2 separate regions of the Homo sapiens genome follow, and region 1 is linked to region 2. Evidence: fine-mapped expression QTL. Tissue or cell type: whole blood. Region 2 holds a variant in brackets; the other region holds the start of a gene. All regions are shown on one strand. Distances are between the middles of the regions.

What was found. PIP is the estimated chance that this variant, and not a neighbour inherited with it, causes the effect.
Region 1: HADH starts here. The variant in region 2 is fine-mapped to the expression of HADH in whole blood (INTERVAL, PIP 0.93).

The regions. Positions count from the first base shown.
Region 1 is chr4:107,986,353-107,994,511 of GRCh38, reverse strand. It overlaps HADH (hydroxyacyl-CoA dehydrogenase), which reads right to left and starts at 4,623. Exons shown (of 8, transcript NM_005327.7): 1 at 4,448-4,623. The coding sequence starts at 4,579. RefSeq lists a silencer at 4,627-4,856.
Region 2 is chr4:107,964,955-107,973,155 of GRCh38, reverse strand. All of the region lies in intron 1 of LOC107986298 (a long non-coding RNA gene), which reads left to right. Among named protein-coding and RNA genes, the nearest start is that of HADH, 21 kb to the left of the region's middle. The variant T/G (reference allele first, on the strand shown) is at 4,189.

The DNA of each region.
Region 1 (8,159 bases), 21 kb before region 2:
ATAAAGCTAAAAAAATATGAAACAACTCTGATCATTCTCTTTTTCAGCATCAGAAAATGCAGATTTGGGGGCAAGAAGAAGAGATGAGAGAACAAATCCAGTGGCTGGGGAGAAGCTTTCAGGTCTACCTGAATCCTTATCAAGCATGGTAGAGTCACACAAAATCCCTGCAACGTAGCAGGCTCTCCCTGCCCTTACTTTGTTTTTAATAGCCAAAGAAGCTCTCTCTAGAAAAAATATGCACTTTCTGCTTTTTAAAAAGGAGGAAAAAAAAAAAGCAAGCTTTGGGAGAGAAGAACCTATCCCCAACCCCCTTTAAGATGCAAACTTTCTCACTTCCTCAAAGAAGAGTAGTGCACTAAAAAGAAGGTTGCACCCGGAGAGCATGTAAAGTGTCTCAAGGGGGACATCTGAAGTGCCCCGTTCCCAGGGAGCCCACTGGCTCCTCACAAGTAATCTAATGAAAGCTATGCATTCTCTCTGGGCTCCTCATATGAAAAAACCCAATGTATGAAGCAAAGCCTAGAAAGGATTCAATACTGGAGAAATGCACACAGCTACCAGCTTTCTTCCTTTCTTGTTTTCCTCTTTATAAAGCAAAAAAACAACCTGTCCCCCACTCAAGGCTCATTTAATCCTATAAGCTTCTTTATTGGCCTAAGTATCCAGTGAAGATAAATTAGCAATCAAAACCAAGTCAGAAGTGTGTAATAAGCAAACACATGAAACAAGTTAACTTCAAATATTAACCTGCAGTCTAAGGGATTTTTTGTTTTTTTAATTTAAAACAAACAAAAGAAATGACAGGCAAAGTAGATACTCTCGGAAAATACACATGTACAAATGGCCTGTGCTCTGATCAAATGTAATTAAGCACTGAACTTGTCTTAAATTGCTTAATTGCTTGAGAAATGCATCAGGCTCCCACAAAATCTATTTAAATATTTTTTCATCCTTCTGAGCACAAACTGACGTGTTTAAAATGACAAAACTATTAAAATTATAAGCAGAACTGCACCTTGACTAACATTAAAACCACGTCAGAAAGTTCAAGAAAATTAAGCTAATGAAAATCAGTAACATAACCTCAATACTAGTTTGTGATTGTACTTTTATGGCTTTACTAAAGTTTAACAATAAAATGGGGGGTAACTAAAAAGTGTTCTCCCTCCTTTCAGAGGTCCCTGAAAAAACATACCCGCTGCAGCATCAGCGGGTATATGCATTCAAGATTAAGCAAGATGAAACAGGGAATCATGACCAATATTCTCCATCTAAACCTTACAGGCCTACCTCAGCAGCTGTGATCAGGATGGGAGTGGATATGAGGGGAAAAGGGCAAAAGGACAGGACAACTGCAATGAAGATGATGATTATTCTTTTTATTTATCTTTTTGAGACGGAGTCTCGCTCTGTTGCCCAGGCTACAGTGCAGTGGTGCGATCTCGGCTCACTGCAACCTCCACCTCTCAGGTTCAAGAGACTATTCTGCCACAGCCTTCCAAGTAGGTGGGACCACAGGCACATGCCACCATGCTGGCTAATTTTTTTGTATTTTTAGTAGAGACAGGGTTTCACCATATTGGCCAGGCTGGTCTTGAACTCCTGACCTCAGATGATCTGCCCCCCTCAGCCTCCCAAAGTGCTGGGATTACAGGCTTGAGCCACCATGCCGGGCCGAAGATAATTATTATAAAGGCAGCTAACTTTCTGTGAACTCTTATTACATGCCAGACACTGTGTAAGTGCTTGACATATGCTTGATATATGTAACTGCTTGACATATGCATGAATTCATTGAATTTATTCAATTCTCTCCCTACGAGGCCAGTACTAGCATTAGTCTACTTTAGAGATGAGAAAACCGAGACACAGAGGTAAAGTCCCATGTTAATACTGCATGAGGCAGAGCTAGCATGCAGACCATCCAACTTCTTATATTGAACTGTAGCCCATCTGTACTCAAAACACATCAACTAATTCGTCTCTGGCACTCAATAAGCAAAACAGATTTACCCTATGCCAAAAGCTGTTGGTCAAGGAGCATAAAGAATGAAGCAATACTGCCTAGAACTGCATGCTACAGGGTAGGGTGCAAAAGCAGATAAGCTAAACCACTGCAAAGCATTGCTCACAAATGTTTTAGAGGATTGGAGCTGTCAACTAAAGTAACTGAGGTTTTTCCAAACTGTGTTACATAAGGATGGAACTGTTTCTTATGGTCGTCCACTTTATAGATTTCTGGTCTTTATAACCTTTCAGAATGACAGTTCCATTATGTGTCCAGCCTATGGCATAAATAGCTTTTTTTTCCCTTAAGTTTCAAAAGGCACTCCCTGGTCCACCTATTTAAGAGTTTGATTGACAAGCACAAGCCTGTGTTCTCCATTAATGTCAATCATTTCTCCTTACTCCTTTGTCAGGTGAAAGCTCCAACACCATACCTGTAATTTTAGGTATTGCCCCTCTGCCTTTTAATGCAACACAACATCCATTTTTGGCCAATGATGGATGCAGCATTCAAAGAACTAAGCACTCTGATTTTCTACAAAAGTTGAAGTGACGCTTTCTACTTAGTTTCTAATCTTTTTCCACTGCTGTCTTCAAGGACACCAGCCACAAGTTTCTGGATCCATTTCCCATAATGTTCCTGGAGGCTGCTTAAGGCCCTAATATTTTGTTACTAAGATGTTGTTAAAATGTTTCTAAAAAACACATTGTTCTATTCCTGCTCACAACAAATCTCACTCTCACAGCCTTGGGAGATTTGGGTGGAGCCTGGGAATACAAACGTACTCAAACTAAACTTTCTCTTGAGTATAACCTGTGGAACTTTTAGGTTAAAGGGAGTTACTCCTCCCAGTCCACATACAACATAGATTATGGGGATACTATAACCTAGCAGCCAGGGGATCCACACAATAAAAAGGGCAATGTATGTCCAAAATTATGGTCTCAGAGGAAATGGGAGACTGTAAGAAGTCATATAAATAAAACATTACAGGGATATAGCTTTTAGAAGAAAATGCAATCAAATAAAAACGTTGTAAAAAACTTGCCAAGGAGAAGAAAATTGAGATATATAATACCTAATAGTAAAAGGTTTTTTTGTTTTTGTTTTTAAAAAGCAAGCATGAAAGCGTGGACTTGGTTGGAAACAAGACATTGAAAAAGTAAACTCTCTCATGACTGTAGCCACAGTAGTACTGTCCCCAAGAAAAATTAGATGACTATAACCGCCTTCCCCAACAAACCAAGTTGCAAAGGACTGAAATGCTAAGAATATAATCAGCTAGGATACGAAAACCATGGTTCTCCAATGTGAGCTGAAATGGAATAATTTTTAAAAAAAAAAAGTACAAGCATTACAGTAGCCAGGTAATCAATCACTCGCACAACTGAGCCTGAACCACAGCTCAGCAGAACAATGGAAAAGCCCTGAAGATGTACAATGGATAAAAGACTTGTTCCGGCTGGGTGCAGTGGCTAACGCCTGTAATCCCAGCACTTCGGGAGGCCAGGCGGGCGGATCACCTTTGGTCAGGAGTTCGAGATCAGCCTGACCCACAAGGTGAAACCCTGTCTCTACTAAAAATATAAAATTAGCCGGGCGGGGCGCCTGTAATCCCAGCTACTCGGGAGGCTGAGGCAGGAGAATCGCTTGAACCCGGGAGGCGGAGGTTGCAGTGAACCGAGATCGCGCCATTGCACTCCACTCCAGCCTGGGTCAAAGAGACTCCGACTCAAAAAAAAAAAAAAAAAAAAAAAGAGAGAGACTTATTCCGCTGCAGCGCCAAAATCGCAAGCTCAGAACTCTGCACAGACGGCACTATTTCAAAGGTCAAAACCAGGACCTCAGCAATCTTCCATTAGGTGACTTTACAAAGTGCTACAAAAGTCATGACTACTACTATTCTTTACAACCTAGCAAGCGAAGGAAAGACCGGGGAGAGCCGGGAGGCCGTTTAGGAGAGAAAACTACTTTGACAAAGACTGCACAATTACAGAATAAAAATCAAAAATAACTGATAGAATTAAAACTGATCGCAGTTCATGTCTTTGGCAGCAAACTCCCGTTTGAGCCGAGCAGGAACAAACGCGTTATGCCTGAACCTTGTGCACATACAATTCTTTCTTCTCTTGCACGGCCCGCTTCCAAAATGCATTCACCGCCACTCTCCATGGAACCTTCAGCGGGCCCTGGGGGCAGCCAGAATTTTCCAAACGAGGAAGCTGAGGATCGGCCCAGAACCCTGAATTTTGAGGGGAGTGAGACTTGGGCCCTCACAGGCCCAGACGCGAGATATTTCAACTACACCCGGGAGGCGCGGGGTGAAAACTCCCTGGTGTCGGGCGGGTGCAGGCCCCTCGCGGCCGGTCGCGCCAGAGCTTCCACCTCAGGGTGGGCGGCCAAGCGCGTGGGCACGCTGCAGGGAGGGCCGCTCACCTGGGCAATGCCGGCGCCCATCAGCCCGCCGCCGATGACCGTCACGTGCTTGACGATTATCTTCTTGGCCGAGGCCGAGGCGGTGGACGAGGAGGACACGGAACGCATGAACTGCCTGGTGACGAAGGCCATGGTGTGGCAGCGGCGGCGACAGCGAGGAGACCCGGGCAGGGAAGACGCGCGAGGCGGGCAGCCGCGGAAAGCCAGACTCTGGGGGCGGGGACCTACGCGGCCCTGCAGCCCGCGCGCCCCCGGCGTCCCCGTGACGCCACAAGGCGGGGGCGGGGCCTCGAGTCCCGCTCTGCCCATTGGCCCTGGCTGTAACGTCCCAGCGTTGAGCGGGTATACACGCGCGGGCTCGCAGCTGTCAGCAGCCGGAGCCCGAGTGAGCGCGGGCTTGAGACCTGCTGAGCAGCGGGACCTGGCGGCTGGCGTTCTGGTGTGGGGCCGAGAACAGACCCTTCTTCTGAAAAGCCACTGGCCCCTTGTTCTATGAAGTGAGTGGTGTTGACTCTGTAAAATGCTATCCTTTGATGACATGTGCATATCTAGGCTCTGAAGAAATATGTGCTGCTTGGCTGTGTTGGTAATGGACCCAAAATGTGCACCGTTGGTTGATGTCACCAAATAATCAACTCGGGATTATTTTAATCCCGTGGACAGTGATTGTTTCCCCTAAAAGGGAAATAAATGTAGACTGCGAACACCCAAAACAAATGTCTAGTGACCATGAGTTACAATGCAAAAATCAGGCTCAGGGAAGGTAAAGAGAGAGTTGACCTTTAGTTACCCATCTTGACGTTGGACGTCTATCAGTGCAGTGAACATGTGGACGGTTTAAGGTCATAGAGCAACCTTTCTGGAATAACGAATACTATTAGAAAGCATAGGAAAGAAATGTCTTGTCAAATAATGGAAGACTGGATAGCAGCTTGGCCAATCTTCTCACTCAGGTGAATACTTTCTAATTACTGTAACTTAGTGATATAGGATTCTTATTAATTTATTTGCTTTATGTTTAAATATTGTTAACAAAAAAACTTCAAACAAGTTTAGCAGAGTTTATCTGAGCAAAGAAAGCATGAATCATGTAGTATCCTGAGCCAGTAAAGGTTCAGAGAGCTCCAGCCCCTAACAGTGGGCAAGCCGCGTTTATAGACAATATTTTTTGCAGCCTGTAATGGGCTAAAAGCTCCGCTGCGGTGATTGGCCAAGACTTGGCCACTTGTTAGAAGAACGTACTCTCAAATTACATTGCAGTTTATTTACATATTAGGTTTGATTATGCTTTGCTAGGTAGGGAGGCAACTTTAGGCCAGATTTAATTTAATAACAGTTTCCTCCTTTGGGTCAGCCTCTCAGTTTTACGAGATTGACCAGAACCTTGTTTTGTCTCAGTATGGAAGTCACAATGTCAAATTAGTTGAGTGATTATACTTTCTTCATGTTGTTATTCTAACTGTAATAACACCATTTGGTGTACAAAGGATGGCTGCATAGAGACATTGAAGACTCTCGAGGGGACAACAACACATCAGGGAGACTATTATGGCCACGAGAAGGAGTATAGCAATAAACTGAGGTACACACCTTAACAGGAGTCTCCACAAACTGAACTGATCAAAATTAAACAATTCAAAGTTCAGGCAATAAAGATAGTTCAAAGTATTTGAGTCCAATTGGTCATGGTCTAATTTAGGGCATTATGGCGGTTAAGGACTGCTAGAAATGCTTATTTCTTGGTGCCGTAAAGAAATAGCACTTGAACATAAAATTAATTTCTTTAGCAAGGCCATTTTTACTTTCTGCGGAAAGAGTACACTCGCCAGCAGTTTTGCCACAAGAGTACACCGAACAAAGGAGGCAGGGTCATTTATAACCTGACCCGTCCACCTTACTGTTGTGACTGGTTTCCATTGGCTAGAACGGGACTTCACATTCTGTATTTGTCTTGATTGGCTAGCAACTTAGAAATTCTTAAAAGAGGCAAAGGCAGAGGAGAACAAAGGAAGGAGGAAGTAACTTGTGGAATGCTGAGAAGGGAAAAACACCTCTAAATAAGGAAGAGGAACAGGCTATGACCTAATGCCCACTTGGACCAGTATAAGCATGCCAGGGCAAATATTTAGGCTAAATTGTGGGAGCTAAGAACATAAAGTACATTGATTTCTTTATTACAGCTAGCAGATATTTAAGAATGTTAACAGGTCTTTGAATAAATTTTGCTTCTAAGAGAGGTTACTATTTATTCCTAATCAGATGAGGAGGAAAGTCTTTGAAAAGGAACCTCTACTTTACTTTTTACAAGGACCATAGTTCACTGAATGACCTGATTCAGCCTTATGGCCTGATTTAAAGAGGTATCCATTTTTGTAATTAGCCTGGTAACACAAGTTATAATAACCTGGAGAGCCACTAAAGAAGCATAAAGATTAGAAAAGTTTGGAATAGCCTAGCTTGCCTTTCACTACTCAGGATGCCTACAAACCAACCATTAGCTGCTCCCATAAATGTATCATGTGTTCCTTTCCCCTGAGAAGTTTCCTTAATATATTCAGTGGCAGTGTTTAGAGAAACAGCAGTATCTGCCACCTTTTAAATTAAGTTTTCTATAGTAGTAAAATTAGAGGAAAAATAAGTGCAACATTCAGTTTTATTCAGCACCATGCAAGAGCCCCCAGCATGAGCAAAGAGGAGATCCAAAGTTGTGTAATGTTCCATGAAGTGTGTTTGTTGAACACAAATGTTTTGATCCACTGAGAATATTTGAGTAGCTTCTACCATGTGAACCCCTAGGAGGTCTGACTGGCTACAAATTCAAGATTTTCCCCAATTTATAGATTAGTTTCAAATTCCATACAACAGGCACCCTGCTAATGCCAAGAGTGAGTTCCAGCACCTCCATTGGAACCTTTCCTCAGTAGAAACTAACTTGTCTTCATTTATTTTTAGGTTGGTGCTTACTTTGGTTATTGACTGCTTTAACCTCTGATTATGAAAGGTATTATGGGAACTTTCAGGGAAGGCTATTGGGATGTAGGAGCGAGCCAGGCCAAATAGCAAGATCTGAACCAGTGAGGAAACAACAGAGAAGGCAGGTCAGATTATCCACCAACCCAATGTAGGCCCTTGGGGGCTTGAAAAGAGGGCCACTTAGTGGTGTTTGAGCCGAGGTCAGTTAAATTTGTCCACCCACAAGTTGGCATAGCTCCTGAATAAAATCCAGTGGTGAACTTACTCTTCTGTGGTCCCTATATAGCATGTTGTAAGGGTGCAAACCACTGGATCTAGTAAAAAGACTTTGCTAGATTTAATCCAGTGAAATCACACAAGCAATTATTTGTACCCACATAGGTAGTCCCCAACGTCTTAAGTATGCAATGCCCGGAAGCACAAGATACCTTTTGCAGGCATCATTCTGATAGTTTTTTTTTTTTACTTTTATGTACAATTGACAAATAATAATTGTACATATTTATGGGGTACAGTGTGATGTCTCAATGCATGTATATGTTGAACAATGATCAAATCAGGATAATTATTAAATAATATGTCACTTTAAGCATTTATCATTTCTTTTTGGGGATAACATTCAAAATCATCTCTTCTAGCTATCTTGAAATATACAATACATTATTATTAGCTGTAGTCATTCTACTGTGTAATAGAATAGCAGCTTTTATTCTTCCTGTCTAACTGTAACTTTGCACCC
Region 2 (8,201 bases):
AGAAAGAGTTTAATTATTGTGGGGCCAGACAAATGAGGGGAATGGGAGAAATTTCTCAAATCTGTCTCTCCAATAATTCAGAGGGTAAAGTTTTTAAGGGTAAATTGGTAGGCAGGTAGTGGGGAAACTGAAACAATTGATTGGCTGAAGATGAAATCACAGAGGTGTCTAAATTGTCTTCACACAGCTAAGTCTTCCCAGGGAAGGGGGAAAGGGTGTTCTCAGAACCAAGTGGTATCTCTTTGTTGAAATGCTAAATCTGAAAAATATCTTAAAGACCAGTTCTTTAGGTTTCACAATAGTTATGTTATCTATAGGAGTAGCTGGGGAGTTACAAATCTTATGACCTCTCATGTGACTTTGGAGCAGAAAGCAATGTATAGAAAAGCAAGCTAAGCAGCAGTAGGTTATTGTTTAACCATGCTTATTCTTTAGCAAGGTTCAAGCCCCAACCATAATTCTAATCTTGTGTTATGAATGCAGCATTAGTCTCCAGCAAGAGGGGATTCAGTTTTCCTTGCTTCAAAGTTTAACTATAAACTAAATTCCCTTCATATTATCTTGGCCTCCATGCTAGAATAAACAACAACAAAAAGAAAGAAAAAAGAGAAAAGAAAAAGAGGAGAGGAAAAGAGAAGAGCCTGTGAGGTTGAGGTTAAAAGCAAGACAGTCAGTCATGTTAGATTTCTCTCATTACTTAACAATTCTGCAAAGGTAGTTTCACTATGTTCAGAGTTATACTGAGGTGCATTTAGGGAAAATTCTTCATCTTAAAGATTTTAACAGTGTTGGCATATACTAACCATTCAACATATTTTTTGAATGAATAAGTGAATAGCTTGAAATTTATGGCTATTTAAAAACAATGCCATTTCATGCAGTAACTCCCACCACAGGCTTGAGTTGTGGTCCCTTAGGAGTTTCTGTCTCCAACTTATCTTTGTGTACCTGGTCAGATGTTTCCTGAGAGGAGCAAGCCTTTATTGTTTTTCCTACAATTACGTTTCTTATTAATAGGGCAGAAAGAATATACAGCATATACAGATATACAGCTAAATGGTATTACATTAATCCCAGGCCCCCAGGGAAAATTATTTAACAACCAATGTAACTTTTTTTTTTTTTGAGATAGAGTCTTGCTCTGTTGCCCAGGCTGGAGTGCAGTGAGCTATCTTGGCTCACTGCAACCTCTGCCTCCTGGGTTCAAGCGATTCTCCTGCCTCAGCCTCCCAAGTAGCTGGGACTACAAGCGTGTAGCACCATGCCCGGCTAATTTTTTTTTTTGTATTTTTAGTAGAGACAGAGTTTCACCATTTTGGCCAGGCTGGTCTCGAACTCCTGACCTCAGGTAATCTGCTCACCTTAGCCTCCCAAAGTGTTGGTATTACAGGCGTGAGCCACTGCACCCAGCCTCCAATGTAACTTTTGCCTTTAAGATTTTTTTCTTTGAGACAGAAAAAAAAATCTTCAAAATTCTTCATCTTAAATATTTTAACAGTGTTTGGCATATACTAACCATTCAACATATTTCTTGAATGAATAAGTGAATAGCTTTACATTTATGTATATTTAAAAATAATACCATTTAACGTAGGTGCTTGAAACAATATGAAGTAAGAATCCTACCTGCGATTGTTTTTGGTAGGTCCTTAAGATTTGGCAGCTTACTCTCAATATATCTCTCTTACTCTCTCTCTCTCTCTCTCTTTTTTTTTTTTAATATGGTGAAATTAGACCAGGGGTCAGAACATAGATTTTAGTCTCCTTTAGTTCATCTACTAGGAGACTAAATTAGATAATCTCTAAACTCCCTTTTAGTTCTAAAATTCTGTAATTAAACTCTAGCATATCATCATTTTAGACTAAAAGTTTTCTTCTTCTTCTTCTTTTTTTTTTTGTTTTTTTGAGATGGAGTCTCGCTCTGTCACCCAGGCTGGAGTGCCATGGTGCAATCTCGGCTCACTGCCACCTCTGACTCCCGAGTTCAAGCGATTCTCCTGCCTCAGCCTCCTGAGTAGCTGGGACTACAGGTGTGTACCACCATGCCTGGCTAATTTTTGTATTTTTAGTAGAGATGGGGTTTCACTGTGCTGGCCAGGCTGGTCTGGAACTCCTGACCTCAAGTGATCCACCCGTCTCAGCCTCCCAAAGTGCTGGGATTACAGGCATGAGCCACCGCACCCGGCCTAGACTAAAGATGTTTTCAATTAAACATTCTTAGTATGCTTTAGTAAGAGCTATTGAGGCTTTCATTTTACAGATGAGTATTAAAGTATCATGAACCAAATAGGCTCTGTGCTATAAGAAATAACTCAATAAGAAATAACTCAATGGTGGTTCATGCCTGTAATCCTAGCACATTGGGAGGCCAAGGTGGGAGGATCGTTTGAGCCCATGGATTCAAGACCAGCCTGGGCAACATGGTGAGACCCTCCCCCCCCCCGCCCCATCTAAAAAAAAGTACAAAAATTAGCTGGGCACATTGGTGCATGCCTATGGTCCTAGGTCTTCAAGAGACAGAGGTGGGAGGCTCGCTCCAGCCCAGGATGTCCAGGCTGCTGTGAGCCATGATCGCGCCACGACACTCCAGCCTGGATGACAGAGTGAGACCCTGTCTCAGAAAAAAAAAAAGAAAGAAATAACTCAATTGTTTCCAGGCAAGCTATCGCAATCTGGTAGGACATTGTTCCTTTATTTTTTCAAGGAATAGATGTTCGTTATAGAAAATTTGAGAAATGTAGAAAAGAATTAAGAGTAAAACAAAAATCAAACATATACATTGTAAGTCAGATCATGTCCCTTCTCTGCTAAAAACTCTCCCATAGCTCCCATTTTATTCAGATAAGAGCAAGTCTTTACCCCACGCACTCCCCCGCACCACTATCCGCTACTCTCTTTTGTCCATTCACTCTGCTTCAGCTGTGCTGTTTCCCTGCTGCTGTTCCTCAGACCTTGCAGGCACACGCTCACTATGAGGGCTTTGGACTTGCTGTTCCCTCTGCCTGGGGTGTTCCTTTCCTAGATATCTACAGGGCTCACACCTCAATTCCTTGGCTGTTCACTTAAAAATCACCCTCCCAGTGAGGCCACCTTCCCTGGTCTCGCCACCTAAAATTGTAACCTCTCCCTGACATTTTGTATCCCCTTGCTAGTTTTATTTCTTAACACTTATCACTAACATGCTACACATTTTGTTTCTCTTATCCATTCAACTTTTTTTCCCCTTTCAGGAATTAAGCCTCTTCTTTTTTTTTTCTTTTGAGATGGAGTCTCACTCTGTCACCCAGGCTGGAGAGTGGTGGTGCAATCTCTGCTCACTGTCACCTCCACCTCCTGGGGTTCAAGCAATTCTCCTGCCTCTGCCTCTCGAGTAGCTGGGATTGCAGGTGCCTGACACCACGCCCAGCTAATTTTTTGTATTTTTAGTAAAGACAGGGTTTCACCATGTTAGCCAAGCTGGTCTCGAACTCCTGACATCAAGCGATCCACCTACCTCTGCCTCCCAAAGTGCTGGGATTACAGGCATGAGCCACAATGCCTGGCCAGGAATTAAGCTTCTTACATCACAGATTTTTCTTTTGTTCACTGCTGTGCCCCAACATCTAGAACAGGCCTCATAATTGTTTTGTGCATGGATGAGGGTGGGTATTCCATTGACCATAGTGTTGAGCATGTGGATTTTTTATCCCTTTTTTTCTTTTCTTTCCATTTCTCTTCTCCATTGCTCTCAAATATATCACTGCAATGAATAACGTATCCCAAACTATTTTTCATCTGATTATCTCCCATAGTTAGTATCTTAGAGTAGAATTTATTGGGCTAAATGACATAAATGCCTAATTTTTAAAATTTGGGGATGATTTTAAGTTACAGAAAAATTGCAAAAATGGTCCAAAGTTCTTATATTTCCTTCACCCAACCTCTACTAATTTTGACATCTTACATAACCATGGTTCATTTGTCAAAACTAAGAAATTAACATTGGTATGATACTATTAACTAAACTACAGATGTTATTTGAGTTCACCAGTTTTTCCACTAAAGTCAGTATTCTGTTCCAGGATTCAATCTAGGATGCCACTGTGCATTTAGGAATAATTAGAATCTTGGTACATATTCTTAAATTTTCTCCAGATATGTGGTTCCAGTCTGTATTGCCAACAGCAATGTATGACTGCTTCTCTCTTA[T/G]CAATACTTAGTATTTTCCTTTTTCAAAAATATCTTTAAAATTCAATGGTTAAAAATGGTGTCTCACTGTAATAGTTCCATTTCAATGAATTTGAAAAATGTTTTATATTATTGGCCATTTGTATTCCTAAAAATTTTTGGCCAGGCATGGTGGCTGATGCCTGTAATCCCAGCACTTTGGAGGCTGAGGCAGGTGGATCACTTGAGGCCAGGAGTTCGAGACCAGTCTGGCCAACAGGGTGAAACCTTGTCTCTACTAAAAATATAAAAATTAGCTGGGGGTGGTGGCACGTGCCTGTAATCCCAGTTACTCGGGAGGCTGAGGCACAAGAATTGCTTGAACCTAGGAGGTGGAGGTTGCAGTGAATCGAGTTTGAGCCACTGCACTCCAGCCTGGGTGACAGAGAGAGACTGTCTCAAAAAAAAAATTATATCTCAAAAATTAACTCAAGATGGATTAAAGACTTAAATGTAAAACCCAAAACTATAAAAACTCTAGAAGATAACCTAGGCAATACCATTCAGGACATAGGCACTGGCAAAGATTTCATGATAAACATACCAAAAGCAATTGCAACAAAAGCAAAAATTGACAAATGGGATCTAATTAAACTAAAGAGGTTCTATACAGCAAAAGAGACTATCAACAGAGTAAACAGACAACCCACAGAATGGGAGAAAAATTTTGCAAACTACATTCAACAAAGGTCTGATATCAAAAGTCTATAAGGAACTTAAACAAATTTACAAGAAAAAACAAACAATCTCATTAAAAAGTGGGCAAAGGATATGAACAGACACTTCTCAAAAGAAGACATACATGTGGCCAACAATTATATAAAAAAGCTCAGTATCGCTAATCATTAGAGAAATGCAAATCAAAACCACAGTGAGAAACCATTTCACACCAGTAAGATTGGCTGTTAAGAAAATAAAAAAATAACAGATGCTAGTGAGGTTGTGGAGAAAAAGGAATGCTTATACATTGTTGATGGGAGTGTAAATTAGTTCAACCATTGTGGAAGACAGTGTGGTGATTCCTCAGAGACCTAAAGACAGAACTACTTTTTGAGCCAGCAATCTATTACTGGATATATACCCAAAGGAATATAAATCATTATATTATAAAGACACATGCACACATGTTCATTGCAGCACTATTCACAATAGCAAAAACATGGAGTCAATCTAAATGCCCATCAATGATAGACTGGGTAAAGAAAATGTGGTACATATACAACATGGAATACTATGCAGCCATAAAAAAGAATGAGATCATATCCTTCACAGGGATGTGGATGGAGCTGGAGGCCATTATCCTTAGCAAACTAATGCAGGAACAGAAAACCAAATACCTCATGCTCTCACTTATAAGTGGGAGCTAAATGATAAGAACACATGGACACATAGAGGGGAACAACACACACTGGGGCCTATCTCAAGGTGGAGGGTGGGAGGAGGGAGAGGATCAGGAAAAATCACTAATGGGTACTAGGTTTAATACCTGGGTGATGAAATAATCTGTACAATAAACCCCCATAGAAGTGACTATGTTGTCTGGGGTATATACCCTGGGGTTCATGGTCGTGCACCAGGAAAATGTTAAGACATGGACAAACAAGAGGAGTTTAGGAGTGGAGGTTTAATAGGCAGAAGAGAAGAGAAAGAGAAACAGCTTTCTCTATAGAGAGAGTGGGGTCCCTGAATGGAAAAGACCTGCAGGTGGCATTGAATTTTATAGTCAGGTTTGAGGAGGCAGTGTCTGATTTACAAAGGGTTCACAGATAGGTTCGATCAGGTATGACATTTACATAGCAGATGGGGAAAGGCCGGTTGTCTCACCCTAATCTTATTATGCAAATGGGCTTTCCAGTTGATCTGAGCCATCTTGTCTGCTTCTTACTGTACACATGGCTGGCAGAGAAGGGAAGATGAAGCTGCCATCTTAAACATGTCTAGCCCCTAGTTCCTGCCAGCATTCACCCATGCAAGCTCCCAGCTTCCTCGTCTATGTCTGCCGCTTGACTTTACAGGCTGCTCTTTGTTAGACAATGATTTGGGGCTGCTTTTCATTAAAGAGAAAAGCCTTACCGAGGACTTCTGTACCCTCACTATCTGCCTAAGTGATTTCTTCTTAACTCCTGTATCACCATGACACAGTTATCCTATGTAACAAACCTGCACATGTACCCCTGAACTTAAAAGTTTAACACAATAATTTGTATCTTTTGCCTGTTTTTAAAATTAGGGTATTCTACTACTGAATTATAGCACTTACAGTTCACTAGAAGAAATACTATGCTATAGTATATGAAAATATTAAAGATACTATATATTATAGTATATATGGATTTATAAGCACTGACTTATAAGCACTTTATATATTAAGGATATTGAATTTTTGGCAAGGCTGATACAAACATTTTTTCATGATTTGCCAGCCGTTTTTTGGAATACAAGAGTTTTCTATTTTTATGTCATTAAGTGTATGCTGTTTTAGTTTTCTGATTGATTCTATTATTTTTTTAAGAGTTGGATTTTTTCTTTTTTTCTTTAAACAGCCTTATTGAAGAACATTGATGGATAAAAATTGTACATATTTAAGGTATACAACTTGATGTTTTGATGTATGTATACATTGTGAAATGGTCTTCACAATCAAACCAATTAACATATCTATCACCTCACCAAGTTACCATTTTCTTTTTCTTCTTTTATTATTATCTTTTTTTGTGGCAAAAACATTTAAGATCTACTTCTTAGAAAATTTCAAGTAAGGAATATTGTTAATCATAGCCACCAGGCTGTACATTAGATCTGTAGAACGTATTCATCCTGCATATTGAAACTTTTTATCCTTTGACCAGCATTACCGTTTCTCCCTCCCTACTGCCCCTGGCAACCACCATTCGCTTTATAATTCTATGAGTGCGACTATTTTAGGTTTCACACATCAATGGGATCAAGCAGTATTTGTTTTTCTGTGTCTGCCTTATTTCATTTAGCATAATATCCTCCAGGTTCATCCATGTTGTTGCAAATGGCAAAATTTCATTCTTTCCTGAGGCTGAATAATATTCCATTGTGTGTGTGTGTGTGTGTGTGTGTGTGTGTGTGTACACCACATTTTCTTTTATCCATTCATCCATCAGTGGATACTTACACTCTTTTCATATCTTAGCTGTTGTGAATAATGCTGCAGTGAACATGGGAGTGCAGATAAATCTTCAAGATCTTAATCTTGATTTCCATTTCTGTGGGTATATCCCAAAAGAGGGATTGCTAGATAATATGGTCGTTCTATTTTTTATTTTTTGAGGACCCTGTATACTGTTTTTGATAAAGGCTGTCCCAATATAAATTCTCATGAACACTGTACAAGGGTTCCCTTTTTCCTGCATCTTTGTCAACACTTTTAATCTCTTGTCTTTTTGATTAATAGCCATCCTGATAGTTATGAGGTGATGTTTCATTGGGTTTTCATCTGCATTTCCCTGATGATTAGTGATGTTGAGCACCATTACATATACCTGTTGGCCATTTGTATATCTTCTTTCTAGAAATGCCTATTTAGGTCCTTTGCCCATTTTATAATTGGATTATTTGCTTTTGCTATTGACTCGTGTGAGTTCCTTATATATTTTGGATATTAACTCCTTGTAAGATATATGGTTTACAAATATTTTCTCCCATTCCATAGGTTGTTATTTAACTCTGTGATTTTTTTTTCTTTGCTGGGCAGCAGTTTTTTAATTTGATGTGATTCTACTTGTCTATTTTTGCTTTTGTTGCCTGTACTCTTGCTATCTTATTCAAACATATTATTGCCAAGACAAATGTCAGAAAGCTTTTTCCCTATGCTTTCTTCTAGTAGTTTTACGGTTCTGAGTCTTATGTTTAAGTTTTTAATCCATTTTGAGTTTATTTTTGTTTATGGTGTCAGATGAGGGTCTAATTTCATTCTTTTGCCTGTGAATATCCAGTTTTCCCAACATTAGTTATTGAAGAGACTA